2 separate regions of the Homo sapiens genome follow, and region 1 is linked to region 2. The links come from fine-mapping of genetic effects on gene expression. A gene starts in region 2. The other region holds a variant in brackets. All regions are shown on one strand. Distances are from middle to middle. Region 1 overlaps ARHGAP39 (Rho GTPase activating protein 39). Region 2 holds the start of SLC33A2 (solute carrier family 33 member 2).

What was found. PIP is the estimated chance that this variant, and not a neighbour inherited with it, causes the effect.
Region 1: its variant is fine-mapped to the expression of SLC33A2 in whole blood (GTEx, PIP above 0.99).

What each region holds. Positions count from the first base shown.
Region 1 is chr8:144,555,462-144,571,254 of GRCh38, reverse strand. ARHGAP39 (Rho GTPase activating protein 39) reads left to right here. Exons shown (of 12, transcript NM_025251.3): 4 at 15,612-15,695. Among named protein-coding and RNA genes, the nearest start is that of C8orf82, 34 kb to the right of the region's middle. RefSeq lists an enhancer at 386-1,585. The variant GAGTCCGATGGAAACCA/A (reference allele first, on the strand shown) is at 8,806.
Region 2 is chr8:144,498,567-144,513,582 of GRCh38, reverse strand. SLC33A2 (solute carrier family 33 member 2) reads right to left here and starts at 4,513. Exons shown (of 5, transcript NM_138431.3): 1 at 3,568-4,513; 2 at 3,076-3,223; 3 at 2,861-2,985; 4 at 2,680-2,789; 5 at 2,370-2,592. The coding sequence starts at 4,249. The coding sequence ends at 2,419. It overlaps GPT (glutamic--pyruvic transaminase), which reads right to left and starts at 9,443. Exons shown (of 11, transcript NM_005309.3): 1 at 9,117-9,443; 2 at 8,890-8,979; 3 at 8,704-8,812; 4 at 8,452-8,585; 5 at 8,094-8,337; 6 at 7,656-7,735; 7 at 7,452-7,588; 8 at 7,177-7,351; 9 at 6,927-7,082; 10 at 6,740-6,852; 11 at 6,411-6,673. The coding sequence starts at 9,278. The coding sequence ends at 6,583. It overlaps RECQL4 (RecQ like helicase 4), which reads left to right. Exons shown (of 21, transcript NM_004260.4): 13 at 1-12; 14 at 103-365; 15 at 445-736; 16 at 812-941; 17 at 1,022-1,191; 18 at 1,259-1,439; 19 at 1,516-1,672; 20 at 1,794-1,902; 21 at 2,028-2,295. The coding sequence ends at 2,152. It overlaps PPP1R16A (protein phosphatase 1 regulatory subunit 16A), which reads right to left. Exons shown (of 12, transcript NM_001329443.2): 4 at 14,743-14,813; 5 at 14,522-14,667; 6 at 13,384-13,487; 7 at 13,192-13,316; 8 at 12,971-13,096; 9 at 12,822-12,897; 10 at 12,612-12,741; 11 at 12,289-12,454; 12 at 11,462-12,063. The coding sequence ends at 11,680. It also overlaps LOC101928953. RefSeq lists enhancers at 3,098-3,721, 5,463-5,592, 5,903-6,032, 9,135-9,795, 13,106-13,767 and silencers at 4,253-4,962, 10,423-10,717, 12,379-12,738.

The DNA of each region.
Region 1 (15,793 bases), 57 kb before region 2:
TTCGGTTTGCCAGTATTTTATTGAGGATTTTCGCATCGATGTTCACCAGGGATATTGGTATAAAATTCTCTTTTTTTTGTTGTGTCTCTGCCAGCCTTTGGTATCAGGATGATGGTGGCCTTATAAAATGAGTTAGGGAGGATTCCCTCTTTTTCTGTTGATTGGAATAGTTTCAGAAGGACTGGTACCAGCTCCTCTCTGTACCTCTGGTAGAATTCGGCTGTGAATCCGTCTGGTCCTGGACTTTTTTTGGTTGGTAGGCTATTAATTATTGCCTTAATTTCAGAGCCTGTTATTCGTCTATTCAGAGATTCAACTTATTCCTGGTTTAGTCTTGGGAGGGTGTATGTGTCCAGGAATTTATCAATTTCTTCTAGATTTTCTATTTTATTTGTGTAGAGGTGTTTATAGTATTCTCTGATGGTAGTTTGTATTTCTGTGGGATCGGTGCTGGTATCTCCTTTATCATTTTTTATTGCGTATATTTGATTATTCTCTCTTTTCTTCTTTATTAGTCTTGCTAGCAGTGTACCAATTTTGTTGATCTTTTCAACCTATTTTTTTCTACCTGCTGTCTCCATTCTGAGAGTTAAAGTCTCCTCCTAGAATAGCAGAATTTGTTCATTTCTCCTTTAAAATCTGTCAATTTCCACTTCTTATATATTGAAGCAGTGAGTTGGTCACTCGTAAGTTTGGAATCGTTTTCCTGCTAGACTTTTCCTATTGTCGTTGCGTCTAATCCTCTTTACCCCTCACAGTCTTCTTGCCTTGAAGTCAACTTTTAGAGTTTGTGGTGCCATTGTTTCTCTTTGGTTAGAATTTGCCTCCTTTTTCCATCCAGTCTATTTCTTGTAAATGATGTATAGCTGTTTGGTTTATTTTTAAATCTAGTCCAAACACCCGTCTTTTGTTTGGCAGGATTGTTCCAGTCATTGACGAGATTGCTGATGCAACAAGAGGATTTAGTTCATCATCTCACGTTCTGCTCGGCTTATAAGCTTTTGTTTGTTTGTTTCTTTGTTTGTTTGTTTTTGAGACAGAATTTCACTCTTGTCACTCGGGCTGGGGTGCAATGGCACCATCTCGGCTCACTGCAACCTCTGCCTCCCCGGGTGAAGTAATTCTCCTGCCTCAGCCTCCTGAGTAGCTGGGATTACAGGCATGAGCCACCACGCCTGGTTAATTTTTGTATTTTTAGTAGAGACGGGGTTTTACCATGTTGGCCAGGCTGGCCTTGAACTCTTGACCTCAAGTGATCTGCCCGCCCCAGCTTCCCAAAGTGCTGGGATTACAGGCCTGAGCCACCGCGCCCAGCCTCAGCATATACGCTTTTCTGTTGCTCTCTCTGTCCTCATTTTCCCCACACCCACTACTCTGTGTGTTTTTGTTAACATTTGGATGGATGTCTTCCTGCCCTTGTTCTGATGTTTCTGTCTCTTCAAGTGTGTCAACTTTATGGAAGGAAAATTGAAAGGCAATAAACCACACACATTTAAAGCATACATTTTGATAAGTCTTGATGTATGTACACACCCATGACCATCACCACAATTAAGGTAGTGCACTTTCCACTGGTGCCAGAAGTCTCCTTGCCCTCCTGTTCCCCTCCCACCTGTCTCTGCACAATCCCCCACATTCCTAAGGAACCATTCGTCTACCTGCTTCACTATAGATTAATTTGTGTTTTGTAGAATTTTACATAAAAGGACTCAAGCAGTATGCACTCTTTTTTGTCTGTCATCTTTCACTCCATGTAATTGTTTTGACATGTTGTTACATGTATCCGTAGTTTATTCCTTTTTCACTGCTTAGTAGTATACCATTGTATGGATGTACCGCCTTCTGTTGGGCATTTGGGTTGTTTGCAGGTTTGGGCTATTACAAATAAAACTGCTATGAACATTCATGTACAAGTCTTTGTTTGGACATACATTTTTATTTCTCTCAGAAAATACCCAGGAGTATTTTGAGGCTCTGTAGTTAGGTACATAAACATTTAGGATTATGTGCTCCTGATGAATCAGTCCCTTCATCATTGACCCTCTTTGTTCCTAGAAATATTCTTTGCTCCAAAATCTACTTACATTAATCTTGGCACTCCAATATTAATTTGATTCATGTTAGCATGGTATCTCTCATTTCAACCTTTTACTTTTTACCTATTCTTTTGTCTTTATTGTGAGTTTTCCTGTAGGCATCATATTATTAGGTCACATGTTTTTATTCAGTCTGAACGTCTCTGCCTGTTTATGGGGGGATTAGACCATTAACACAGTGTGATGATTTGCATGGCTAGGGTCAGGCTTAGGCGTAAATCTGTCGTCTCGCTGTTTGATTTGTTGTCTCTTTTGTTCTCAATCCCTTTTTCCTCTTTTTTTTTTCCTTCTGCACTAATCGAGCATTTTAAAATTCACCTTTATCTCCCCTTGTTGGATTCTTAATTATGGCTCTTTGCTACTTTTTAGTGATTGTTTTAGGGTTTATGTATTATCTTATATTAACTTACCATAGTTGACTTTCAAATGATATTATCCCGCTTCATAAATGGTGTAAGAACCTAACAGCATTTATTAGGCTCCATTTCTCTCTAATTTTGTCCTGTTGCTGTCAAGTATGTTACTTTTCTACATGTTATCAATGTCTTAATACATTGTTATCATTTGTACTTTAAACAGTCAGTTATCATTTAAAGAGATTTTAATACTAAGCAAACATTTCTACATCACCCCACACAGTTCCTGTTTCCTGTGCTCTTGATTGCTTGTGTAGATCCAGATTTGTGTCCATCTGGTGGCATTTCTTTCTGCTTCAAGGACTTCATGTAACATTTACTGAAGTGCAAGTCTGCTGGTAATGACTTCTTTTAGCTTTTGTGTTTTTGAAAAAGTCTTCCATCTTTTTTTTTTTTTTTTTTTTTTTTTGAGACAGAGTCTCACTCTGTCACCCAGGCTGGAGTGCAGTGGTGTGATCTCGGCTCACTGCATCCTCCACCTGCCAGGTTCATGTGATTCTCCTGCCTTAGCCTCCCAAGTAGCTGGGACTACAGGCGTGTGCCACCACACCCAGCTAATTTTTGTATTTTTTTGGCAAAGACGAGAGTTCACCATGTTGGCCAGGCTGATCTCAAACTCCTGACCTCAGGTGATCTGCCCACCTCAGCCTCCCAAGGTGCTGGGATTACAGGCATCAGCCTGTAGGGTCCAGCCCCACAGGGTCAGTGGGTTTTCTCCCCATGTGCGGAGACGAGATTGTAGAAATAAAGACACAAGACAAAGAGATAAAAGAAAAGACAGCTGGGCCCAGGGGACCACTACCACCAAGACATGGAGACCGGTAGTGGCCCTGAATGCCAGGCTGCGCTGATATTTATTGGATACAAGACAAAGGGGCAGGATAAGGAGAGTGAGCCATCTCCAATGATAGGTAAAGCCACGTGGGTCACATGTCCACTGGCCAGGGGGCCCTTCCCTGCCTGGCAGCCGAGGCAGAGAGAGAGGAGAGAGAGAGAGAAACAACTTACGCCATTATTTCTGCATATCAGAGACTTTTAGTACTTTCACTAATTTTCTACTGCTATCTAGAAGGCAGAGCCAGGTGTACAGGATGGAACATGAAGGTGGACTAGGAACGTGACCACTGAAGCACAGCATCACAGGGAGATGGTTAGGCCTCTGGATAACTGCAGGCGAGCCTGACTGATGTCAGGCCCTCCACAAGAGGTGGAGGAGTAGAGTCTTCTCTAAACTCCCCCCGGGAAAGGGAGACTCCCTTTCCTGGTCCGCTAAGTAGCGGGTGTTTTCCCTTGATACTGACGCTACTGCTAGACCACGGTCCGCTTGGCAACGGGTGTCTTCCCAGACGCTGGCGTTACCGCTAGACCAAGGAGCCCTCTGGTGGCCCTGTCTGGGCATAACAGAAGGCTCGCACTCTTGTCTTCTGGTCACTCCTCACTATGTCCCCTCAGTTCCTATCTCTGTATGGCCTGGTTTTTCCTAGGTTATGATTGTAGAGCAAGGATTATTATAATATTGGAATAAAGAGTAATTGCTACAAACTATTGATCAATGATATTCATATATAATCATATCTAAGATCTATATCTGGTATAACTATTCTTATTTTATATATTTTATCATACTGGAACAGCTCGTGCCTTCAGTCTCTTGCCTCAGCACCTGGGTGGCTTGCCGCCCACATCAGCCACCACACCTGGCCTCATTTTCATTTTTGAAAGCTACTTTTGCTGGGTGTAGGTTAAGATTTATTCCTTTTTGCCACTTCATTGTCTTCTGGCTTGCATCATTTCTAACAAGAAATCAGCTGTCATTCTTTGTATTTCTTTACATAATGTGTCTTTTAACTCTAGCTCCTTTATTTCTTTTTTTTTTTTTTCTTTTTTTGAGATGGAGTCTCACTATGTCACCTAGGCTGGAGCGCAGTGGCACGATCTCGGCTCACTGCAACCTCCACCTCCTGGCTTCCAGCAATTCTCCTGCCCCAGTCTCCCAAGTATCTGGGATTACAGGCGCACACCACCATGCCCAGCTAATTTTGTATTTTTAGTAGAGCCGGCGTTTCACCATGTTGGCCAGGCTGGCCTCGAACTCCTGACCTCAAGTGATCTGCCCACCTTGGCCTCCCAAAGTGCCGGGATTACAGGCATGAGCTACCATACCCAGCCAATTTCATTCTATTTTTTTGAGGCAGGGTCTGGCTCTTTCACCCAGGCTGGAGTGGAATGGCGTGATCTCTGCTCATTGCACACTTTGCCTCCCAATCTCAAACTGTCCTCCCACCTCAGCACCTGGGACCACAGGTGCACACCACCACACCCAGCTTATTTTTGTATTTTTGGTAGAGATGGGGTTTTACCATGTTGCCCAGGGTGGTCTCAAACTCTTGGACTCAAGCGATCCACCTGCCTCGGCCCCCAAAGCACTGGATTTGCAGGAGTGAGCCACCACACCTGGCTCTAGCTCCTTTATTTTCTCTATTTTGCTCATTTTAAGCAATTTGATTAAGATAGGGGTTTATGTCATTTTCTTCGTGTTCCTTGTGCTGGGGTTCGTGTAGCTTCTTGGACCTCTCAGTTTATGGTCTTCATCACGTTTGAGAAATTTTCAGTCATTTTTTCTCCCAAAACAAAACTTTTTTTGTTGTTGAGACAGGGTCTCGCTCTGTAGCCCAGGCTGAAGTGCAATGGCGCAATCACAGATGATGGCGGCGTCAACCTCCTGGGCTCAAGCGATCCTCCCACCTCTGCTTCCTGAGTAGCTGGGACCACAAGCTTGCTGACTTCCGTACCCAGCCTTTTTTTTTTTTTTTTGTAGAGTTGGGGTCTCTCTGTTTTTCCCAGGCTGGTCTCAAACTCCTGGGCTCAAGCGATCCTCCCGCCTCAGCCTCCCGTAGTGCGACAAGTGTGAGCCACTGTGCCTGGCCTTTTCTTTAGACTGTGTTTGTGCTCACACCCCCACCCAGCACTGCAGTTATGTGTCAGGTCACTTGAAGTCATCCTGCAGCTCTCTGACTCTGTGGGATAATTTCCATTTTCTTTTCTTTTGTTTTTTAAGATGGAATCTCGCTCTGTCACCCAGGCTGGAGTGCAGTGGTGCAATCTCAGCTCACTGCACCTCTACCTCCTGGGTTCAAGCAATTCTCCTGCCTCAGCCTCCCGAGTGGCTGGGACTACAGACACCTGCCACCGCGCCTGGCTAATTTTTGTATTTTTAGTAGAGACGGGGTTTCGCCACATTGCCCAGTCTGGCCTTGAACTCCTGACCTCAAGTGATCCACCCGCCTTGACCTCCCACCATGCTGGAATTACGGGCATGAACCACTGCACTCAGTCCCACTTTCTCTTTTTTCTTTATTTTTCCTCTGTTTTTTGTAGCTTTAATTTTGGATCATTTCTGTTGTTGTGCTTTCAAATTCACGAAGCGTTTTTTCTTTCTAGTGGTGGGTTTGGTTTGGTTTGGTTTTGAGGCAAGGCCTTGCCGTTGCCCAGGCTGGAGTGCAGTGATGCAGGCTCGGCTCACTGCAGCCTCAACCTCCTGGCCCAGACAGTCCTCTCAGCCTCCCAAGTAGCTGAGACAACAGGCACACATTACCACACCTAGCTAATTTATATGTATATAATTTTTTTTTTGAGATGGAATTCACTCTTGTTGCCCAGGCTGGAGTGCAATGGCGCAATCTCGGCTCACGGCAACCTCTGCCTCCCGGGTTCAAGCGAGTCTCCTGTCTCAGCCTCCCGAGTAGCTAGGATTACATGCACATGCTTCCACGCCTGGCTAATTTTTGTGTGTTTTAGGAGAGACAGGGCTTCATCATATTGGTCAGGTTGGTCTCGAACTCCTGACCTCAGATGACTCGCCCCCATCTTGGCCTCCCAAAGTGCTGGGATTACAGGCTGAGTCACCATGCCTGGCCTTTTTTTTTTTTTTTAGAGATCTCACTATGTTGCCCAGGCTGGTCTCAGACTCCTGGCCTCAAGTGGTCCTCCTGCCTCAGCCTCTCAAAGTGCTAGGATTATAGGCGTGAGTCTCCATGCCCAGCCCCAGTGTATTTTTCCTCTCAGACATCATAATGCTTATCTCTAGAACTTTGATTGGGTTCTTTTTTGTATATTCTACGTCTCTACTTAACATGTTCAGTCATTTCTCTAGCTTTTTGAACATATGGAATACAACTTTAGTAACTGTTAATGTCTTTCTCAACTACTTTCATTTGTGTCAGTTTGGGGTTAGGTTCAACTGGTTGAGTTTTCTTGTAATAGTTCCCTTTTTTTCCCCTTCTCCAAGTTATTGGTAGAGATTCAGTGCATTCTGAGGAGCAAGAACTTCCATCTTGTGAGCAAAAGTTGTTGATATATGAGGGGAAGCCATCCCAGCAGGGGAAGCACCAAGTGGCACGTCCCGAGACGGAAGAGCATTTGGTGTGCTCAGGGGACAACGGGGGCCAGTGCTGCTGCTCAGAGAAACCAAAAGGAGTTGGCATTCCTGACTATCAGAACCAATTGCAGATGTTCATCTCTTGTTATTTGTGATGACATTTTACATGCTTCATCTGCAAAAATGTCTTTTTACACAGAGAGCTACTGCCAAATACTGGTGTCAGTCCATGAGCATATGATTTGGAAGGCATTTATCAAATTCTGCTGGATCTATATTTTGAGCTCAGAAAATATATCTGCTGCAAATTTGTGTGGGAATGGAAATCTCACTTTCTGTTTTAATTTTAGACACCATGGGAAGTAGATAAAGCAGCTTGACATTACTTATGATTCAGACATTAGTTGACATCGAAATAACTTTACTGCAATATAAGTTTCACACATATGCACTGTTTGATTTGTAATGTTAGGTTGAATTCATTAAGAAATGTTGTCAAGCCTACAACAAAAATTAATTTCCAAAGTCATTAATTGTGCACTTATTTATTTATTTATTTTATTATTATTTTTTTTAGATACAAGGTCTCGCTGTTACCCATGCTAGAATGCAGTGGTGTGATCACAGCTCACTGCAGCCTTGAACTCCTGGGCTCCAGTGATTCTCCTCCAGAGCAGCTAGGACTATAGGCATATGCCACTGTGCCCAGCTAATTTTCTTTTATTATTATTATTTTTTTTTTATAGAGATAAGGTCTCACTATCTTTCCAGGCTGGTCTTGAACTCCTCGTCTCAAGTGATCCTCCTAACTCAGCCCCCTAAAGCATTGGGATTTTAGGGCTGAGCCCTAAAATTTTAGGGTGCCAAGCCCTTTTCAGTGTTTAATAGTGGTTGAGGGAGGTTTTTCTCATGCAGAGACTTTTAGTCTTGGCCCAGAGTTTTCTAAAAAATGACAATAAAACTTTGCCACTGCGAAGCTGTTGAATTTTGTGTGGTCGGAAAGTGAGAATATTTATCATTGATTTCTGACAAAAATTCATGGAACTAATGATGGCTGAGTCATGAGAGTGCATGAAGTTCGTGTTGATGCCACTGTTTCAGTAACTCCTAATAGATTCAAATACTTTTCACAAAGTAGCTGCTAATGAAAAACACAATAAACATAGGCTTATATTTTCACATTATCTTCAGTTTTCATAAGCTTTGTAAGTTTGTCTAAGTAAGCCTTTTCTGATCCACATATATTCTTAGCATGATCAGTTGTAGTTCATCTTAGTAGATTCCACTTCAGGTCATACAAAATTAGTATTTTCACAACTTATTTGAAAATACTGTGTGTTCTAGTTGTTCCACATAGAGCAAGTGATAGAGGCTAATTCTTTGGTCACTTCAAGCTCAATATTGACTCCTTCAAACATAGCAGTACCAGTAACGTCTGTCAGCTCATCAAGAGCCAAGGAAACCACTGGAGTCCGATGGAAACCACTGGAGTTAGTCTGTGGAAACCACTGGAGTGAGTCCGATGGAAACCACTGGAGTGTGATGGAAACCACTGGAGTCCGATGGAAACCACTGGAGTGAGTCCGATGGAAACCACTGGAGTCCAATGGAAACCACTGGGGTGCGATGGAAACCACTGGAGTGAGTCCGATGGAAACCACTGGAGTCCGATGGAAACCACTGGAGTGAGTCCGATGGAAACCACTGGAGTCCGATGGTAACCACTGGGGTCCGATGGAAACCACTGGAGTGAGTCCGATGGAAACCACTGGAGTGTAATGGAAACCACTGGAGTGTGATGGAAACCACTGGAGTGTGATGGAAACCACTGGAGTCCGATGGAAACCACTGGAGTGAGTCCGATGGAAACCACTGGAGTGCGATGGAAACCACTGGAGTGCGATGGAAACCACTG[GAGTCCGATGGAAACCA/A]CTGGGGTCCGATGGAAACCACTGGAGCGCGATGGAAACCACTGGAGCGCGATGGAAACCACTGGGGTCCGATGGAAACCACTGGAGCGTGATGGAAACCACTGGAGCGTGATGGAAACCACTGGAGCCCGATGGAAACCACTGGAGCACGATGGAAACCACTGGAGCACGATGGAAACCACTGGAGTGTGATGGAAACCACTGGGGTGAGTCCAATGGAAACCACTGGAGCCCGATGGAAACCACTGGGATGTGATGGAAAGCACTGGGGTCTGATGGAAACCACTGGAGTAAGTCCGATGGAAACCACTGGAGTAAGTCCGATGGAAACCACTGGAGTAAGTCCGATGGAAACCACTGGAGTAAGTCCGATGGAAACCACTGGAGTAAGTCCGATGGAAACCACTGGAGTGTGATGGAAACCACTGGAGTGTGATGGAAACCACTGGGGTCCGATGGAAACCACTGGAGTCCGATGGAAACCACTGGAGTGTGATGGAAACCACTGGAGTGTGATGGAAACCACTGGAGTGCGATGGAAACCACTGGAGTGTGATGGAAACCACTGGGGTGAGTCCAATGGAAACCACTGGAGCCCGATGGAAACCACTGGGATGTGATGGAAAGCACTGGGGTCCGATGGAAACCACTGGAGTAAGTCCGATGGAAACCACTGGATTAAGTCCGATGGAAACCACTGGATTAAGTCCGATGGAAACCACTGGAGTGTGATGGAAACCACTGGAGCGCGATGGAAACCACTGGAGCGCGATGGAAACCACTGGAGCGCGATGGAAACCACTGGGGTCCGATGGAAACCACTGGAGCGCGATGGAAACCACTGGGGTCCGATGGAAACCACTGGGGTCCGATCGAAACCACTGGAGTGTGATGGAAACCACTGGGGTCTGATGGAAACCACTGGAGTCTGATGGAAACCACTGGAGTGTGATGGAAACCACTGGAGTGTGATGGAAACCACTGGAGTGTGATGGACACCACTGGAGTGTGATGGAAACCACTGGAGTGTGATGGACACCACTGGGGTGAGTCCGATGGAAACCACTGGGGCCCGATGGAAACCACTGGGATGTGATGGAAAGCACTGGGGTCTGATGGAAACCACTGGAATGTGATGGAAACCACTGGAGTGTGATGGAAACCACTGGGGTCTGATGGACACCACTGGAGTGTGATGGAAACCACTGGAGTGTGATGGAAACCACTGGGGTGAGTCCGATGGAAACTGCTGGGGTGCGATGGAAACCACTGGGGTGTGATGGAAACCGCTGGGGTGCAATGGAAACCACTGGGGTCCTAGGGCTGTTGTGTTGCTCTCACTGTCCTCAACTCCTCAAGCAGCTGCTCTTGCCAAAAGGCTAATAGTCTTAAGCAAGTTTATCATCTCTCGACACAGTTTTAGATGCCATAATCAACACAATGTAATTAATTTCCCATCAGTGAACAGTTTTCCTTGCTTGGCTAACAAGTGAGCCACATTAGAACATACGTTAGTGTAAGGGTCATTTTTATTTTTGTAAAGTAATTCTGCCGTGATGAAATACTCCACTTGAGAGTTTCTGTTTCTGTTTAAAATGTTTCTGACAGTTGTGTAAGTTGAGTCTGTTGTGACGAGTACTTGCTCTAGTAGTGTTGACGTCATGCTCCTTTAGCACAGCCATAGCATCACCGCCTCAGGAACATGATATTCATCTAACTCAGTAACAGAGTAACCCGCGCACCGCTGGTCCTCGAGAGCATAACATTGAAGGCCCACTTGCAGGACCCCAGTCATCTTTTGGTGACGAGTCAGAAATGGTAGGAGGGTTAGATACAGATACAGCAATCTTATAGATGTCTTTGCCTATATGGTTTTCCATCTCGGCATATTCCATATTTCTAGCTTTTTGTTCTGTACCGTAATTATGTGTTTGAAGATATTGACCACCAGCCAACTTTAACGTTTGCCATTTGTTTTTTTATTTTGTTTTGTTTTTTTGAGACGGAGTCTCGTTTTGTTGCCCAGGCTGGAGTGCAATGGCAAGATCCCAGCTCACTGCAACCTCTGCCTCTTGGGTTCAAGCGATTCTCCTGCCTCAGCCTCCCAAGTAGCTGGGATTATAGGCACGCGCCACCACACCCGGCTACTTATTGTATTTTTAGTAGAGACGGGGGTTTCACCATGTTGGCCAGGCTGGTCTCAAACTCCTGACCTCAAGTGATCCACTCACCTTGGCCTCCCAAAGTGTTGGAATTACAGGCGTGAGTCACTGTGCCCGGCAAGTTTGCCATTTGTTGATACAACTGATTTTAAAACATTTTTAAAATGACCTTTTTATTTGAGAAGCAATGTACATTAGTCATAGAAGATATGTATAATTACATAAAAGAAAATAAACACTTGTAATAGATATTAGTGCTGTCTACCACAGGCCAAGCACACAAAATTCAAAGTGCTCCATGATCTGGAACGTTTTGAGTGTCAACGTGATGCCACAAGTGGAAACTTCCACGTCTGACCTCAGGTGATAGGTTGCCATTAAAACACAGTCAAAACTTTGTTTCATGCACAGAATTATTAAACATATTCTATAAAATTGCCTTCAGGCTATGTGGATAAGGTATATATGAAACATAAATGAATTTTGTATTTAGACTTGGGTCCTACTCCCAAGATACCTCATTATGTATATGTATATGTAGATATTCCAAAATCCTAAAAAATCCAAAATCCAAAACTCTTCCGATCCCAAGCATTTTAGATAAGGGATCATCAACTTGCCTTAATTTTCTGGCATATATCCTTGAGGTTTTTAAAATATTTTACCACAACCGTATTTCAGCAGCCATGTCATATTTCTCAGTAGGAGCAATGTGCTTACTTAGTCCCTGTCCTCAGACACACGATTGGTCTCCAGCCTACTTGCTGTGTACAAAAATTTTAATCCCTGTCTCCTGAATTATTTTATATATTTGGGTCAATACTTGCGCTTTCTGTTGCATTCCAGAATCCATCCATCTACTAGTACTACACTGCTTTAATTATGTAGCTTTTTTTTTTTTTTTTTTTTTTTTTTTTGGAGACAAAGTCACTCTGTCACCCGGGCTTGCACGATCTCGGCTCACTGCAAGCTCCACCTCCCAGGTTCAAACAATTCTCCTGATACTGTGACCACAGGCATGTGTCACCCTTCCGGCTAGTTTTTGTTTTTTTGTTTTTTGTTTTGAGACAGAGTCTCGCTCTGTCGCCCAGGCTGGAGTGTAGTGGTGCAATCTTGGCTCACTGTAAGCTCTGCCCCCTGGGTTCACGCCATTCTCCTGCCTCAGCCTCCCGAGTAGCTGGGACTACAGGTGCCCACCACCACACCTGGCTAATTTTTTATATTTTTAATAGAGACAGGGTTTCACCATATTGGCCAGGCTGGTCTCAAACTCTTGACCTTGTGATCCGCCCACCTTGGCCTCCCAAAGTGCTGGGATTACAGTGTAAGCTACCGTGCCCGGCCCTAGTTTTTGTATTTTTAGTAGAGACGAGGTTTTGCTATGTTGGCCAGGCTGGTCTCGAACTCCTGACCTCAAGTGATCCACCCACCTCAGCCTCCCAAAGTGCTGGGATTACAGGCATGAGCCACCGTGCCCAGCCTAATTATGTAGCTTTATATTACTGTTTATATCATCCTTTCTGTATTACTTCTCAGCTATTTTTATATGGGGCTTTTTGCAGGGAGCAGAGTAGGGGGTGAACATACTGAACATTCTTAAGTTCTGAAAGTACTCCCGCTGAACATTTTTCTTTAGCTCCCTACTGTTGCCACTGAATGAAATTATTACTAGAATTTATGGCCAGGCGCGGTGACTCACGCCTGTAATGCCAGCACTTTGGGAGGCCAAGGCAGGTGGATCACCTGATGTCAGGAGTTCGAGACTAGCCTGACCAACATGGCAAAACCCCGTCTCTAATAAAAATACAAAAATTAGCCAGGCGTGGTGGCAGGTGCCTATAGTCCCAGCTACTTGGGAGGCTGAGGCAGGAGAATTGCTTGAACCTGGGAGATGGAGGTTGCAGTGAGCTGAAATCAAGATCACACCACTGCATTCAAGCCAGGGTGAGAGAGAGAGACTCCATCCCCCAGCCAAACAAAAAAAAAGACATTAAACATATTAACTAATTTAAAAAGAAGTCATATCTTTATATTTATTGAATTTTCCCATCCGGGAGTGTGTGTTTCTCTGTTATGTATTCAAGTCTTCTTTTATATGTCTCAACAAGACTTTACAGTATTATTCATATTGATACAGCACATTCCTCACTAACCTGTGCCTAGTATTTTGTTGTTACTGTTGCTTTAATAAAGGTGAGCTTGGTTTCCAGCCAGTCACCACCACACAGCACAGCCTCTGATGGCAGGTGGTACGTAAGTGAGGTCTCTCCGCACTGCTGAAGTTTCTCATTCGATTGTTTTAATTTCTCTAGGCTGACAATTGATGATCATTTTTATGTCTTCCTTTCAAATATTTGAATCTTTTGTGGTTTTTTTTCTTGTCCAGTTGCATTGCCTAGCACTTCCAAAAACTGTATTAAACAATGGTGGTAAGGATAAATAATTCTTGCCCTGACTTTCATGGGTATGCTTTCAGCCTTTTGCCACTGAATACTACGAAGGTTCAGCCTTTTGCCACTGAATACTACGAAGGTTCAGCCTTTTGCCGCTGAATACTATGAAGGTTCAGCCTTTGCCTCTGAATACTATGAAGGTTCAGGCTTTGCCTCTGAATACTACGAAGGTTCAGCCTTTGCCTCTGAATACTACGAAGGTTCAGCCTTTGCCTCTGAATACTACGAAGGTTCAGCCTTTTGCCGCTGAATACTATGAAGGTTCAGCCTTTGCCTCTGAATACGATGAAGGTTCAGCCTTTTGCCGCTGAATACTACGAAGGTTCAGCCTTTTGCCACTGAATACTACGAAGGTTCAGCCTTTGCCTCTGAATACTACGAAGGTTCAGCCTTTTGCCGCTGAATACTACGAAGGTTCAGCCTTTTGCCACTGAATACTATGAAGGTTCAGCCTTTGCCTCTGAATACTACGAAGGTTCAGCCTTTGCCTCTGAATACTACGAAGGTTCAGCCTTTTGCCGCTGAATACTACGAAGGTTCAGCCTTTGCCACTGAATACTACGAAGGTTCAGCCTTTGCCTCTGAATACTACGAAGGTTCAGCCTTTGCCTCTGAATACTACGAAGGTTCAGCCTTTGCCTCTGAATACTACGAAGGTTCAGCCTTTTGCCTCTGAATACTATGAAGGTTCAGCCTTTGCCTCTGAATACTATGAAGGTTCAGCCTTTGCCTCTGAGTACTATGAAGGTTCAGGCTTTTGCCGCTGAATACTATGAAGGTTCAGCCTTTGCCACTGAATACTATGAAGGTTCAGCCTTTGCCTCTGAATACTATGAAGGTTCAGGCTTTTGCCACTGAATACTATGAAGGTTCAGCCTTTTGCCTCTGAATACTATGAAGGTTCAGCCTTTTGCCTCTGAATACTATGAAGGTTCAGCCTTTTGCCTCTGAATACTATGAAGGTTCAGCCTTTGCCTCTGAATACTATGAAGGTTCAGCCTTTTGCCTCTGAATACTATGAAGGTTCAGCCTTTTGCCTCTGAATACTATGAAGGTTCAGCCTTTGCCTCTGAATACTATGAAGGTTCAGCCTTTTGCCTCTGAATACTATGAAGGTTCAGCCTTTTGCCTCTGAATACTATGAAGGTTCAGCCTTTGCCTCTGAATACTATGAAGGTTCAGGCTTTGCCTCTGAATACTATGAAGGTTCAGCCTTTGCCTCTGAATACTATGAAGGTTCAGCCTTTGCCTCTGAATACTATGAAGGTTCAGGCTTTTGCCGCTGAATACTATGAAGGCCTTGAGTTTAATTTGGATATTCTTAATCAGATTAAGTAAATTTTCTTCTACTTCTGGACTACTGAGAGTTGTTTTAGATCATAAATACTTATCGGTTTGATCACATACCTGGGAATATCTGTCGGGATAATCGCCTACTCAGCCATTCATTTCATAGATATTTGTTATGTTCCAGGCCCTGACCTTCAGCAGTCACAGTCTCCAAGGGTATTTCTTTTTTTTTTTTTTTTTTTTTTAGATGGAGTCTTGCTCTGTCACCCAGGCTGGAGTGCAGTGGCGCCATCTCGGCTCACTGCACGCTCCGCCTCCCGGGTTCACGCCATTCTCCTGCCTCAGCCTCCCAAGTAGCTGGGACTACAGGCGCCCGCCACCACGCCTGGCTAATTTTTTGTATTTTTAGTAGAGACGGGGTTTCACCATGTTAGCCAGGATGGTCTCGATCTCCTGACCTCGTGATCCGCCCGCCTCAGCCTCCCCCAGTGCTGGGATTCCAGGCGTGAGCCACCGTGCCTGGTCTCCAAGGCTATTTCTAGCCATGCTTCCTTCCCAGGTCATCTTTTTATGTCTGGCTGAAGCTGTGATTCTCAGTAACCCCATCTCTATGCCCTTAGAACAGTAGCCCCAGCTCCAATGGTTCAAGCTTCTGAAATCCAGGTGTCCCAGCCACTCCCTGGCCTCTGGATGGGCCACAGTGGTGTGTACCTGCTGGAAGAAGGTGGACTCAGGGCAGAAGATGAAGAATACAGCCTGGGGGCAGGAGCCAGGTTATTTCCAGGAAATTGAGGTGGCAGTGCCACATTCTTAAGTCAGGGAGTGGCTGGTTATGGTAAACGATTGCACTTATATTCATATTTCTTTCATTTTACTGTGTTTCAGCTCTTCACCACCAGGAGTGTTCCTTGAGAAGGACTATGAGATTTACCGGGATTACAGTGCGGACGGCCAGCTTCTTCACTACAGGTAGAACCCATCTCTCAGGCGTGGCCGTTTGTGATGGAGGGCGGCTTCCTCAGTGAGCCAGGCTAACTGCAAGTGGGAGGTGCCTGGCGCGTAGCAGC
Region 2 (15,016 bases):
CAGGGTCTGGAGGTGCGGCATGGACAGAGCTGGTGTCCCCGTGGACCCACCTTGGGCACACATGGTCCCATCCCACTGACCATCTGCCTGTCTTCCCCAAAGGTCGTGCCCCCAAAACCACAGCCGAGGCCTACCACGCGGGCATGTGCAGCCGGGAACGGCGGCGGGTACAGCGAGCCTTCATGCAGGGCCAGTTGCGGGTGGTGGTGGCCACGGTGGCCTTTGGGATGGGGCTGGACCGGCCAGATGTGCGGGCTGTGCTGCATCTGGGGCTGCCCCCAAGCTTCGAGAGCTACGTGCAGGCCGTGGGCCGGGCCGGGCGTGACGGGCAGCCTGCCCACTGCCACCTCTTCCTGCAGCCCCAGGTTGGCACCCCCCCCCCCCACACTGCCAGTGCTCGAGCCCCCAGTGGTCCACCCCACCCTCATGAAAGTTGCCCTGCAGGGCGAAGACCTGCGAGAGCTGCGCAGACATGTGCACGCCGACAGCACGGACTTCCTGGCTGTGAAGAGGCTGGTACAGCGCGTGTTCCCAGCCTGCACCTGCACCTGCACCAGGCCGCCCTCGGAGCAGGAAGGGGCCGTGGGTGGGGAGAGGCCTGTGCCCAAGTACCCCCCTCAAGAGGCTGAGCAGCTTAGCCACCAAGCAGCCCCAGGACCCAGAAGGGTCTGCATGGGCCATGAGCGGGCACTCCCAATACAGCTTACCGTACAGGCTTTGGACATGCCGGAGGAGGGTGAGGAACCTGGGGTAAGCCACAGGGGTGTGGAGGGGCTGTCCCCGCGTCCGCTGAGCCCTGCTCTGCCCCCAGCCATCGAGACTTTGCTGTGCTACCTGGAGCTGCACCCACACCACTGGCTGGAGCTGCTGGCGACCACCTATACCCATTGCCGTCTGAACTGCCCTGGGGGCCCTGCCCAGCTCCAGGCCCTGGCCCACAGGTAAGCACGCCCTGCCCAGTTGGAGACGAGGTTGGAGAATCAGGGCTGTTGGCCACATGTCCCTTTTTCCCTGGGCACAGGTGTCCCCCTTTGGCTGTGTGCTTGGCCCAGCAGCTGCCTGAGGACCCAGGGCAAGGCAGCAGCTCCGTGGAGTTTGACATGGTCAAGCTGGTGGACTCCATGGGCTGGGAGCTGGCCTCTGTGCGGCGGGCTCTCTGCCAGCTGCAGTGGGACCACGAGCCCAGGACAGGTGCGCCTCTCCCCACCCCACACCGCCCTGGACGCTGCCTGCCTGCATCTGACATGCTTTCCGGCAGGTGTGCGGCGTGGGACAGGGGTGCTTGTGGAGTTCAGTGAGCTGGCCTTCCACCTTCGCAGCCCGGGGGACTTGACCGCTGAGGAGAAGGACCAGATATGTGACTTCCTCTATGGCCGTGTGCAGGCCCGGGAGCGCCAGGCCCTGGCCCGTCTGCGCAGAACCTTCCAGGCCTTTCACAGGTTGGGAGGAGGCGGGCGGGGCCTGGGACCATCCACCCTCCCGCAGTGATCAGCTCTGACAGGCTCCTCCCCACAGCGTAGCCTTCCCCAGCTGCGGGCCCTGCCTGGAGCAGCAGGATGAGGAGCGCAGCACCAGGCTCAAGGACCTGCTCGGCCGCTACTTTGAGGAAGAGGAAGGGCAGGAGCCGGGAGGCATGGAGGACGCACAGGGCCCCGAGCCAGGGCAGGCCAGAGTGAGTGCAGTAAGGCCAGGCAGCTCATCGGGGTTGCAGGTTCCCTGGGCTGCATGGGGCTTGCTCTGTGGATGCAGTGCCACGGGAGCTCAGAGGAAGCCTGATGTGCCTGTCCACACAGCTCCAGGATTGGGAGGACCAGGTCCGCTGCGACATCCGCCAGTTCCTGTCCCTGAGGCCAGAGGAGAAGTTCTCCAGCAGGGCTGTGGCCCGCATCTTCCACGGCATCGGTGAGGCCTGGGAGGCCCCACCCGCTGCAGGCTGGGGCTGGGGGCTGGGGCAGGTGAGGCCTGGGAGGCTCCACCCGCTGCAGGCTGGGGCTGGGGCTCACGGCTGTGTCTTGGCTCCACCGTAGGAAGCCCCTGCTACCCGGCCCAGGTGTACGGGCAGGACCGACGCTTCTGGAGAAAATACCTGCACCTGAGCTTCCATGCCCTGGTGGGCCTGGCCACGGAAGAGCTCCTGCAGGTGGCCCGCTGACTGCACTGCATTGGGGGATGTCGGGTAGAGCTGGGGTTGTCAGAGGCTAGGGCAGTGACTGAGGACCTGGGCAAAACCTGCCACAGGGTGTGGGAACGAGGAGGCTCCAAAATGCAGAATAAAAAATGCTCACTTTGTTTTTATGGGCCCTCTTGGCCAATGAGGCAACCCCCACAAGCTGGGGACAAGCACATCACATATTCCAGGCACAGAGACATCTGGGCCACAGGCACATGTGGCTTTATTGACCACTCCAGCCACTCAGCTCAGAGAAAGGTGCTGGGTGCTAGGTCCAGGTACAGAACGGGAAAGGCAGAGAGGATGAGCAGGAGCAAGAAGCAGGGATGTGGCCCCAACCCATCAGCCAGGCCTCCGGCCAGAGTGCCCAGCAGCAGCTTCCCCAGCAGCTCCAGCGTGGCCAGAAGGCTGTAGTGTGTGGCCTGAGGGGGGTGGGGGTCACGGTCAAGGTCAGGCCCACACAGCCCCAGCCCCGTGGTCTCTCTTGTGTCCCTGCTACATCTACTCACCTGCAGGGCCCTGGGGGCCAGCTGGCTGCAGCGCATCATCCCAGTGAAGGTGACTGTGGTGACCAGGCCTCCCAAGAAGTGCTGCAGACATAGGCTCAGCAAGGCTGACCCTGGGAGGGCAGAAGTCAGCAGTGCCCCAGGCTCCTGGCCCCTCTCTTCCTCCTCAAGGCCAGCCCCTCACCTCTCAAGATTGTGCCAGCGTCCATGCTGGCCCCCAGGGTGTCCAGGTGGAAGACCAAGGCAGTCTGACAGGCTAGGCCCCCGAGGCGGAAGCGCAGCACCGACCTCAACAGAGGCAGCAGTTTCCTGGGATGGGGGTGGGAAATGGGTCAGTATAGTGGATTGGGGGCAGCTCAGGTACAAGTGGGTGGGCAGGGTACACTGGGGAGGGCTCACCAGTGCTTGGCCAGCAAGGTCCCACCCAGGGAGGAGCCAGCGATGGAGCAGACCACAGCACCCACACCATTCCACAGTCCCAACTCGGGAGCAGAAACGCCGTGGTCCAGCAGGAGAAGAGGAAACAGGCTGCTGGCACCCTGCTCACCTTGGGTGGTGGGGGGGGCATGAGCACGGGAGGTTCCATATCTGCCCCCACCTCCCTTCTCCCCACCTGGGCCCTCAGTCCTGCCCTGCTCTCCTCAGTGTTCCAGAGCTGCAGATACTGGGGGAGAAGTGGGGCAGCCCGAGAGAGCGCTCAGGGATGGGGCTAGAGCTGGGGGCGGACAAGACACAAGGCCCAGCTGCAGAGCCCCGGATGTCAGGGCCAAGTCTTGCAGGTCATACCCCAGAAAGAGCGTGGCCCTGTAATGGGTTGCAAGCCCCTGGGGACACACCTGGAGCTGTCCCGGAAGCCCCAACTGCTGTTGCCTGGCTCGAGGCCTCACTCACCCAGCTTGTAGGTGAGCACAAAGCCTGCCGTCCACACGGTCCCCGGCACGGCTAGCACGTCCCGCAGAAGGTGCGCGGTGTGGGGACGCTGCTCGGAAGGGGGCTGCTGTGGGAGCCGCCGCAGGGCTGGTGCAGCCCAGGCCAGGGCCGCGGCCAGCCAGTAGGTGGCAGCCAGGAGCAGAAAGAGTTGCGGCCACGAGAAGGTGGGCAGCAGCGCCAGCAGCGCGCCCCCAGCTAGCGCGGCCCCCAGCTTGTACGCGACCACCTGCACGGTATTGCCCGGCCCCAGTTCGGCCGGCTCCAGCAGCTGCACAGCCAGCGCGTCCAGGGCCACATCCTGCATGGCGGCACCCAGGTTCAACAACAGCAGCAACCCCGCCACAGCGGCGGGCAGCCCGGCCTGGCCAGCTCCAGGAGGGGGCAGCCCGGCAAGCAGCCCACACACCAGGCCCAGGCCCGCCGTGCTGCGCGTCACCCAGGCCCTCGCCGAGCCCTGCGCGTCCACCAGCGGGGCCCAAGCCAGCTTGAGCAGCCACGGAGCGTACAGAACCTTGGCCAGCCCCACGCGCGTCAGCGAGAGGCCGCCGGCACGCAGCAGCACTGGCAGGAGGCCGGACTGGAGCCCGTAGGGCAGGCCCTGCACCAGGTAGAGGCCGGCCAGCGGCAGCAACTTCCCGCGCATGGCGGCTCAGGCCGGCTGCGAGGCTGGGAGGTCGGGTTCCAGGTGGGGTCCCGCAAGGCGAGGTCCCCTCCGCGTGGGGTCAGAGGCCACACCCCGGCATGGCTTTGGTTCTGGGACCGGGCAGAGTCAGCGTCGTACAGGCTAGGGTCTGGACACGTGCTCTCGGGCTTTAGGAGCATCAACACCCCAGAAGAACCGAAGTCGGGTCCAAACGGGGGCGAGCGGTCCGGACACCGGCGGCCGGCGGCTCCCGGCATGCTCTGCGCGGCCGCAGGGAAGGGGGCGGGGCCACTGCCTCCCGGGGCTCCCACCATGCTCTGCGATACCGCAGGTGAGGGGAGCGGGGCCACTGCCTCCCGCGGCTCCCAGCATGCTCTGCGAGGCCGCAGGTAAAGAGGGCGGGGCCGCTGCCTCCCGGGGCCCTCGGCCCGCGCCCAGCACTGCCGGCCGGGCCGGACTCTCAGCAGTTTCTCGGCCCCCTGGAGCCACAGAGCGGAGCACGGACCACACGGCGTCGCTGGAGCCCCGCGGCCACCGGCTCCAGGGCCGGAAGGTCGCGCGGGCCACAGAGACCGCAACGGGCCAGAGCGTCAGCTCGCGGGCGCCCCCGGTGGCCAGTCCGGGCTCGGGCCCGCGGCCCCCCGCCCCGCCACGTGCGCGCTCCCACCGAGGTCCTGCGCGGGTGAGAGGCCCAGAGGGGGAAGCTACAGAGCTGGGCCGGCCTCGAATGTAAGGATCGGCCTGCGCCCACGGCCAGCCCTGGCCCCTCTCAGTAGTTTCGGATCCGCTCCAGGCGTGCTTCCTTCCTGGTGTCAGCCGAAGCGTGGTTGCTGCAGTGCCCAGCCCCCGCTTCTCCAGCCGCCCGCATGAAGGCGTCCGTTTCTTAAGGGTTCCGCCGTCTACCACTGGATACTTCCGGTGCGGACCCCAACCTTGCTGTGTCTGTGGCTTCAGCTCCTCCGTAAGGCGGTGACAGAGCCATGGAAGTTAGGAGGGAAGTGTGAAAGGTCAGGACCCAGCTTAGCTCAGAAGGACACCGCCAGCCACTGCCCGTGACGCCCTTCGGTGTCCGGTGACAAGGCTAGGAGCACCCTGCCTGATTCGAGCCCGCCCTGCCAAGGGAGGGGCCCACCTGCTGTGTCTCCTGCCCAGAGCTGTGCCCTCTGGGGCTCCCGAGGGCCAGATGAGGCTGTGAAGTGTGTGTGGCCTGTGGTTAAGAACCATCTCCAGAGCGAAAAAAACCAGGTGCCCTTGGCCAGTCCTATCTCCCAAGTTTGTGAGTCTCTAAAGCCAGCCCTGTCCTTGGCGGACTTGAGGGCACTGGACCCAACGCATTTTTCTGGCTGCCGAGGCCTCTGAGGGGGTTTCTTGTCAGCTCAGCAGGTTTTTGGGTTGCAGGTTTCCACGTCTATCAAATGGGGACTATCATGCCTACTTCAGAAGAGCATCTGTGCAGATTGAGTGACCCCCCAGCAGTGTCTGCATGTAGTAGGTGCTCAGCCATGCTCCCCAGGCCAGGACACAGCGCTGCCCACTCCCGCTCAGCCCAGCCCCTGCCTCCTCCAGCCCCAGCCCTCCCCTGGGACGCTCCCTTATCCTCTCCCTCTGCCTCCCACTCCACCCAGCCGAAGGACTGCACCACACAATGACACCAAAGGTGGTCTCTGGCCCCCCAGACAGTGGCCCCACCCCTGCTTCCTTGGGTAAGAGAACCAAGACTTCCTTCCTGAGCTGTCAGTCACCCTGACCAGCCAGCACCATGCTGGTTTAGTATTTCCCCCTGCCCCAGGGAAGACATGGACCTCACAGGAAAGGGAGCCAGGAAGGAGGCAGTTCACTGTGCCTTCCTCAGGAAAGGCTGTGTTTCTTCGGGTGGCCACCTGGGCCCCTGGCTCCCTAGATTCTTGGGGGCTTCCACAAAGGGGTGTGGGGCCTGCGCTTTCCTCACACTCTGGACCCTCTCAACCCATTTCTGTGTGATCTGACGGGCTCTGCCCCACAACCAGAGGCCAGAGGGAAGACCCAGCCTATGGTGGGCACGGGGTCTTCAGGAGGAAGAGGTGGGTGGTGGCCGTGGAAGGTCCCTTCTCTGAAGGGACTCAGGCCTGCAAGAAGGGTAGGCAGGTGGGAGCGGGCCACGCAGCTGCCAACGCTTCCTCCCTGGAGTCAGACTGCCACACAGCTTTATTAGGGACCTGCAGAGAGGCAGGGGCCCAGCACCCCCCCCACCCCACCCCGCCAGGCATCAAGAGCAAGTACAGTGGGCTCCAGAGCCTCCCAGGGCTCCTGAGCACACAGTCCAGGGCGACCCAGCCTGGCCCCAGCTGGGGTGCTCAGGAGTACTCGAGGGTGAACTTGGCATGGAACCTGCTCAGCTTCTCCAGCAGCAGCCGCAGTTTCTCCAAGGGGGGCAGAATGGTCATCCTGAAAGGAGTTGACAGTGAGTGAAGGGCCAGGGTGGCGGGACAGGGAGTGAGGGCCAGGCCTCACCGGAAGTGGTAGGTGCCTTCCCGCTGCCCAAAGCCGCTCCCTGGCACCACGCAGATGCCGGTCTCCTCCAGGAGGCGCAGGCAGAAGAACATATCGGGGGCCAGGCCCAGCTCCTGTGGACGGAGAGCCGTCAGAGAGGGATGCCCGGCCCCCCCTGCCCACCCCGCAGGCCCCGCCCCCGCCTGACCTGAGCGCGCTCCACCGCCCGCGGGGGCAGCTGCACGCGCGGGAAGGAGTACATGGCGCCCTGCACTGGGTTGCAGCTGATGCCAGGAGCCTCATTGAAGACCTGCTCGGTGAGCTTGGCCTTGGCCGCCAGCTCTGCCAGCACTGCCTGCTTCTCCTGTGGCCGCGGAGGGAGGGCCCATCAGGGCACGGCACTCGGCATCCCCCACCCCTGATTAGGTCACCTGGACCCCCTCCTGCCCCCAACTCACAGCCTGGAACTGCGCAAAGGAGGGGTCGGTGGGCGCGGGCGGGCTGACCACCAGGTCCAGCAGGGCCTGTCCTGGCACCGGCGGGCACAGCCGCACACTCATCAGCTTCAGCATCTGCTGCTGCACTGCAGCGTCCATGTTCACCACCTCCACATAGCCGCCGCGGAACCCGCACCTGCGCACGGCCAGGTCAGGTGCGGAGGAGGGGGTGGCCCATCGGGCGAGGAGGGCCTGGCCATGGCCCGCGAGCCCCCACCCGCCTCGTACGCACGCACTCGCCCATGTAGCCCTTGGAGGTGGAGTGGAAGGAGGCAAGCTCCTGCTGCCCGGCGTAGGGCGGCCCCATCTCCATGAGCACCTTCTTGAATGAGTGGAACTGCGAACCCGCGGCGTACACGTTGTCCTGGTACACCTGGAAGGGCGCAAGGCGTCACGGGGGCGGACTGTTGCCCGGCTTCCCGCTCCCCCGCGCCGCGCACCTCGTCCGCCAGCAGAAAGAGCCGCTCTTCGAAGGCGAAGCGGATCACGGCCTCGATGCACTCGCGGGTCTGCACCTGCCCTGGGGTGCCGGGGAGGCAGCAGTGCTGGGTGAGCCAAGGGGGCGCACTGCCCTCCGCTGGGCAGCCGGGGTCCAGCGGACCCGGCACTGCCTGGGCCAGGGCGCACGTGGGTGCGGGAGGAGTGGGGCGGGGCGGCGGGGAACGCACCGTGGGCGCGGAGGGAGTGGGGCGGGGCGGCGGGGAACGCACCGTGGGCGCGGGGGGAGTGGGGCGGGGCGGCGGGGAACGCACCGTGGGCGCGGGGGGAGTGGGGCGGGGCGGCGGGGAACGCACCGTGGGCGCGGGGGGAGTGGGGCGGGGCGGCGGGGAACGCAACGTGGGCGCGGGGGGAGTGGGGCGGGGCGGCGGGGAACGCACCGGTGGGGTTGCCAGGGTTGATGACACAGAGCGCACGAGGGCGGCAGTGGTCACGCGCCTGGCCCAGTGCACGGTGAAGCTCGGCCACGTCCAGCGCCCAGGCACGCTCCTCGTCCAGGTAGTAATCCACCTGCACTGCGCCCAGCTCTGCCAGCGTGGCCGAGTAGAGTGGGTACTGGGGGATGGGGATGAGCACACCCGTGCGTGTGTGGCCCTCGCCGGCCACCAGCAGCTTCAGCACCGTCTGCGGAAAGGAAGGGGAAGGCAGGGTTGGCGAGGCCTGGGGCCGCACCTGTCCCCCACCCTGGGCGCCCCCTCTGCAGTGTCAGGAATGTCTTGGTGCCCATGCCCAGCCTACCACGATGGCATCGCTGGCCCCTGTGGACAGGAAGACGTTGTTGGGGTCCGCAGGGATGCCTCCGTCACGCCTCTCAATGTACCGCGCCACGTCCTCCCGGATCAGCTGGATGCCGGAGCTGACGCTGTAGGCCCCTGGACTCGGGCAGGACAGGATGGGAAGTACAGGTGAAGTTCTCCTCAGCCCTCCCAAGGGACTTCCCTCCTCCAGTGGCAGGGCGGCCCTCTGCTTCCTCCTGGCCCTGGCTCTCACCCAGACTGTGGCCCCCACACGCCTGCAAGATGCGCTCCGCCCTTTTCTTGGCATCGTCAGGGAAGTTGGGGCTGCTCAGAAGATCAGGGTTAACACAGAGGGCCAAGACCTGGGAAGACGGAGTGCTGAGGCCAGGGCACATGGGCTGGGGGTGGGGGGGTGCTCCGGGCAGTGCAGGAGCCTCACCTGGCGCAGGAAGGTGATGGGCCTCTGCCCCATAGCCTGTGCGTCCCCGATGTTGGCACGGATGACCTCGGTGAAAGGCTTCTTCACACCCTGGGAGGGGAGGGGAGCAGGCAGGGAGACTGTGCCCTACCTAACCCCTCAGCCCTTGTCCCATGTGCCAGTGGGGCTGGGGCCAACTCGGCCACCCCATTGTGACCTGGAGGGCAGCGAGGGGCCCTGGGCCATACCTGGCGCAGCTCCTGCTCCAGCTCCAAGGCTCGCTGCACTATGGGGCCACGCACTGCGTACTCCACTCTCCGCACACGCGGGTTCATGCCGTCCAGCGTCAGCACCTTCGCCCTCAGTCCATGCCTCACCGCCTGGCTCCGGTCACCTGTGCTCGAGGCCATGACTCTACCCAGACCAGGCGGGAAGGCAGCTCAGGAGGTGGCAGGACCAGAAGTGGGAATGGCGACAGCTGGGTCTGGCTTAGTGGGCCAGGGCTGGGAGGGGGCAGCCGTAGCAGAGGGAACTCCAGGCAAGAGAGCACCCTCTTCACCGCAGCTGGCCTCACTGGGAGGGACAGAAAGGGCTGAAGGAGCTGGGGACAGTTGGGCCCCGCCCCACCCGTCTGGGAACAGCTCTGCCCCAGGGAGGCAGAGGCAGTGGGTGAGGTGGCAGGCGGGGCTTGGGGCAAGGCCCAGTGCCTGCCTAGTGTCCCCACGAAGGGAGAGCAGGAGACCCACATGGGGGGTAGGTACAGACGTCAGTCCGGACAGCTCTGAGGGACTAGACATGGGGGGAGGGGGAGAGGGCTGAGCACCTGGGGTGCTCAGGAGGTGAAGGGGTGCCCAGCAGCCCTGAGGGGCTGGCAGAGCTGGCAAGGAGGGACCCCCGAGGCGAGACTGGAGCCTGGGCTGCTGGGATTTACCCCAGCAGGGCTTGGCCGAGGCCTGGCCCTCGTGGCACCCGCATCTTTGCTTGGGCCAGCGGACCTGTCTCCTATTAACTGAGCCAGGCCTCAGGAATCCAGGGGGTGCTGGGGGGAGGGGAGGGGTGTTCAGGCTCTGGGTTCCATCTGGACCCTCCAGAGCTGGCAGCTATGGCCCAGAGGCTGCAAGAGCTCTGTAGCTGGACCTTGGTCCCTGATGAGCACTGCGAGGGGCTGGGGGAGGGGGCTGGAGCCAGGCAGTCCAGCCCTGAGCCCTGGGACAGCTCACACCGTGGCTGCTGTCATGCCCTTTCACCAGGCACCAGCTGGGGGTTGCCCTTGGGACACACCCGAGGCTAGGGGTGACCTGAGCTCTCCAGCCCTCTTGTTCCCGATTGGAGGAGAGAGTAGGAAACGAGCTGGGATAGGCCGTCAGAGCCCCACCTCCACAGGCCTGCTGAGCTGAAAGGCCAGGCTCCACGCTGGCCCACCCCAGCGTCGGGCACCGAAACCTGAACCATGGGGGTCAGGGAGCCGGCCCTCTGAGCAGGGCTGTGGGCAACCAGCCAGGCCCAAGTCGGACCTTGGCTCCTCTGATCCTGCTGGCTGGGAGAAAAGCCATCGGGAGCCCTGGACAGCCGGCCCCCAGGCCTCTCACCGTGCACGTCTCTGTTCCGCTGCCACAACAGCCTCCCCGTGCGCAGGCCTGCCCCTCTGGCCCCCAGGCCGGGGCACAGGTTAACATGGGCCTGGCCCCAGGCAGAGCCAGCCCCTGCCCGCCCCCTGGCAAGGGAGTCCAAGTGGCAGCCCTGGTGGCAGGTGGACCTTGGGCAGCTGCCCCACCCCCCACACTAAATTTAACCAGCAGCCAGCCCTGGCCCGCCCACAGCCCTGTGAGGACACCCTTCCAACCAGGGATGCTAGGGGAAGGGCAGGCCCAAAGGACACTGGGCTGACGGGCCCGTGCTGAGCCAGGAGGGAGAACAGCCCAAACCCACACCACCCAGCACTGGTGGCCACACAAAGCCGCCCACCATGAACAGACGAACCAGCGGTGCCCTCAGCCCTCCTGCTTGAGGCCCCTAAGGGGCCCCCTCACCCTGACACATTGTGCCAAGCCAGCTCAGAGCCAGAGTGGCCAACTGCGTGTCCCCTATGCCAGCCCAGGCGGAAGCTGGCAGCCAGGCCCCAGGATTAAGGCTGCGTGCCAGGAACTGGGGACCCACAACCCCCCCAGGGAGCTTCTGACACAGCCTTGTGCTTGTTTTGCCCCTCTGGCTCTGACACAAGAGTCTTGTGGAAAACACCACCTCCCTTTCCAAGCCATGGTCCCTGGGACCCCCACCTTCCGCCCCTCAGCACAGACACCCTAGGCCCTGGCCCCCATGGAGGCTCCTTCAAAGCACCTGGCTCCTCTCAGGAGAGCAAAGGGTTACGGAGGAGGCTCCAGGAGGCTGAGCATGGGAGGGAGTGGGTGAGGCCCAGGCTTCCAGCCCAGTGGCTGTGAGCCTCACTCCCACACAGCCAGGGCTGCCACATGCCCCAGCGCGCACCTACAGGCTTTCATGCTCACAGGCACGGGTGGCACCCCAGCCAAACAGCACAACCCACTCCCCACTGTGGGACAGCGACCCAGCTGAGACACACAACACACAACGAGGCTCCATGGCAAAACAGCCCTTTATCAAGAGTTGCAGGATAAAAATAGTCTTTGCAGCCAGACATCCCTCCAGGCATGTCTTCTGACCTGAGAGGGGCCAGTGTCCTGTACAGTAGAAGCCGGGGTTTCCGTGCTGCACCCGCAGCACCAGGGCACGCACCGTGGGGAGGCAGCCTTGGGCTGTGCCCGCGACAGGGCCCCTGCATGCTGAGCAACAGCCTCACATGAGCAGGCAGCACGGCCTCCTCTCCACGGGAGCCTCCACCGCCGGGGCTGTGAGCTTGAGCAGGGGTGGGTCCCCGCCTGCCCTGAAGCCACAGTCAGGCTGGGGGGTCACCGTGTCACCAGGCAGGCCAGGCTCAGCTGTCTCAGGGCTCTCGGGCCCCTCAGGTGGGGGTCGCTGCAGCTTGGCAGCAGCTCGCTGGCGCTTCAGGTCAGCCAGGGTGTGGTGGGCCTTGTCGTGGACCAGGGTGTGGGGGGTGGTGCTGTCCAGGGGGCTCAGCTGGTAGGAGACACTCCGGTCTAGTCGCTTGGAGTATAGATGCCGCACTGGGGAGCCCCCTACTCGGCCATTGTGCGGCCTGACCACTTCGGGGTTGTCCTCCTGCGGGCAGTGAAGGTCCCAGAGCCATCAGGAGGCTCCTCCCCCCTCCCTGGCCTTGGGTTCAGGCTGTATGGTCATGAAGGGACAGACAGGAGAGATGGGGCAAAAGCTGGCCCCTGCAGGGCACCATTCCTGACACAGGCAGGAGGGGGTCCAAGCGGAGAGAGAACCAGGGCAGAGCCAGGCCCACCCCTGCGCTGGGCGGAGCAGGGACGGGGCGCTCACCTCCGGGGGCGGCGGCCTGAGCTCTGCGCCTGTCTGGCGGTCATCGTTGTCCTCGGGCGGCTCCGGGCTGGTGGGCGGCGGCTGTTGCCACACGATGGCCTCCTGGGCGTGCTGCTTGCGGTACAGGTCGGTGCGCTGGGTTAGGCTCACCCGCCTCACCACCTTCCTGGGGAGGAGAGAGGAGAGGGAGTGAGGGGAAGGGGAGTGCCCGGAGGACCCCGCCCACCCCCTCGGACTCTGCCCCCAGTTCGGCTGGCACTCCGCCCGGGGCTGACGTCCGCGGGGCCAAGCCCGGGGCGGGGCCTGCTGGGGGCGGCGCTCACCCGCGGCTGCCGGCGCTGGAGGTGCGGCGGCGCAGCAAGGAGCGCTGGCGGCTCTGGGCGCGCAGGAGGGCGTCGTGCTTGTGCTTCAGCTCCAGCAGCTTGGCCCGCACCTCCTCGTCCCCGCACACATCTGAGAAGTGGGCGCAGGCGTCAGGGGCGCCCTCCCCGCCTGTCCTCTCCCCCAGGTGGAGGTGGGCCCCGCAAGCTCACCAAGGGGCGTCTCGTCCATCAGGGACTTTGCGTTCAGGTCGGCCCCGTGCGCCACGAGCAGCTCCACCAGGGGCACCTGTGGACGGCAGGCCGGAGCTGCAGACTGCTGCGCTGGAAGCCCCCTCCCACCTGCTCCCGCCCGCACTCACCTGGCCCCAGTAGGCCGCGGCGTGCAGCGGCTCCCAGCCGTCTTGGTCCTTAGCGCTCAGGCTGGCTCGGTGTTCCAGCAGCAGGGCAGCCGCCTCGCTGAACCCGTTGGCGGCTGCGACGTGCAGCTGCAGGCAAGCGCCCGGCCTGAATTCGGCCCCATCCCCCACCTCCAAGTAGCGAGGCCCCCAGCCCCGTGTGCCCCTCACCCCCCAGCCCTCACCAGCGTGGCCCCGTGGTCCAGGGGGGCATGGAGGTCTGCCCCGGCCTGCAGCCGGCTCCGGATGTCGTCCAGCATGCGCAGTTCTGGCACGGCCCGGGCGGCCTCGATGCTGTCCTGGGTGATGCCTGCGAGGCGGCAGGCTCAGAGGGAGCGCGACCGGCAGCCCTCCCACAGCCGCACCGCCGCACCTACCACGGTCGGCCATGGCAGTCTCCAGGCAGTCCAGCGTCTGCTCATCATCACACAGGTCATAGGGCATGTTCCCGTCGGTGTTGACCGCCAGGAGATTGGCGCCACTGCAGGGAAGACGGACGGGGTGCTGGGCACAAGGCCCTTCCCCGCTTGCCAGGCTCCTCACTTGGAGAAGTCCCCGCCAGGGCCCCTCAGCCCAGGGCTGCCCCTCAGGAGGCACCCTGTCCACCTGCTGCTGGGAGAGGCAGCCTTGGGGCCCATCGGCTGTCCTAGATCCTGTCATTAAGCCAGACAGGCCTCCTGCAGTCTCTATCCATCCAGGGATCCAGGTTCCTGGCACCTCCAGGGGCAGCGGTGCCCCCATAAACATGCATTGGATGGGCCTGCCTGCTGGGGAGCAGGGAGCACAGGGTGGCGGGGGTGCAGGACCAGGCAGCCACGCTGAGGGGCTGCTGAGCTGTGGGGAGCATGGCCCCAGGGAAGAAGGGCGGTGAAGGGGAGCCCAGAACACAGAAGGGGGTGTCTGTGTGCAGTGGAGGAGCAGGCCTACCTGTGGACACCCCACATCCCCGCCTGCCCCGCAGCGCCTGTGTGTGACGCGACCGCCATGCACACCCCACCCGGCCTCACAGGGGCACTCGAGAATGACCGCAGCCCTGACCTCTCTCCCACTACAGATGCCTGGAGCAAAGGGGAAGGGAGGAGGCTCATGGACCCTCCCTGCTCAGAGTTCCCCCCGCTCTACGTCCCTCTGTGTTAAAGGTAAAGGCCCTACCTGTGCTCAGGTACCCTCTCCTCCCAAGCCACCTGGCCTCCTCACTCTGCTTCCCTCCTTAGCAGTTCTGCCCTCCTCACTGACCAAGACATTTCTCTGTGCACACTCTGGGGGGGGGCCCGAGGCCTGCCCTCTCGGCAGGAGGACGAATGCTGGGGAGGCAGGGACCGCGCTGCCCTGGGCACATGCCCATTCCCCTGGAGCCCCAGGCCCTGCTCTCCATGCCAGGACACAGGCAGGGTCAGCAAAGGTGAAGGCGGGAACACAGGAGGCCGAGAGCCACAGATACTGCCCAAGAGGAGCCTCCTGAGCGGCCATCTGAGAGGAAGCCTCTCCCTGCCAAGGACGCCCAACAGGCCCTACCTGGCGATGAGCAGCTCCACCAGGTGCAGGTGGCCGCAGGTGGCCGCAGCATGCAGAGGCGTCCAGCACTCACTGTCACAGGCATTGATGTTGGCCCCAGCCTCCAGGAGCTGCTGCACCATCTCTCGGAAATCATCAATGCAGCACTGCAAACCGTGCCACGTGAGCGACCAGAGCACGGGGGCCAGCCCCCACCCTGCCCACACCCAGTGCAGGCTGACCTGGTGCAGGGCCGTCAGGCCGTCCTCGTTGGCCAAGTCAGGGCTGACCCCACTCCCAAGGAACTGGCGGACTGCAAAAAGGTGGCGAGGTGAGGACAGGGTCCTGCCCCTGGTCAGGTCCTGTCAACTGTGCTTCGGCCCAGGACCCAGGGAAGGACAAGGAAGACAGTGGTGCCGATGGCAGGAGGCACACCAGAGCCCAGGGGTGGGGGCAGAAGCACCAGGCATCTGTCTGGCCCAGGCCGGTCACACTCCCAGAAGCCCTCTGCCTCCA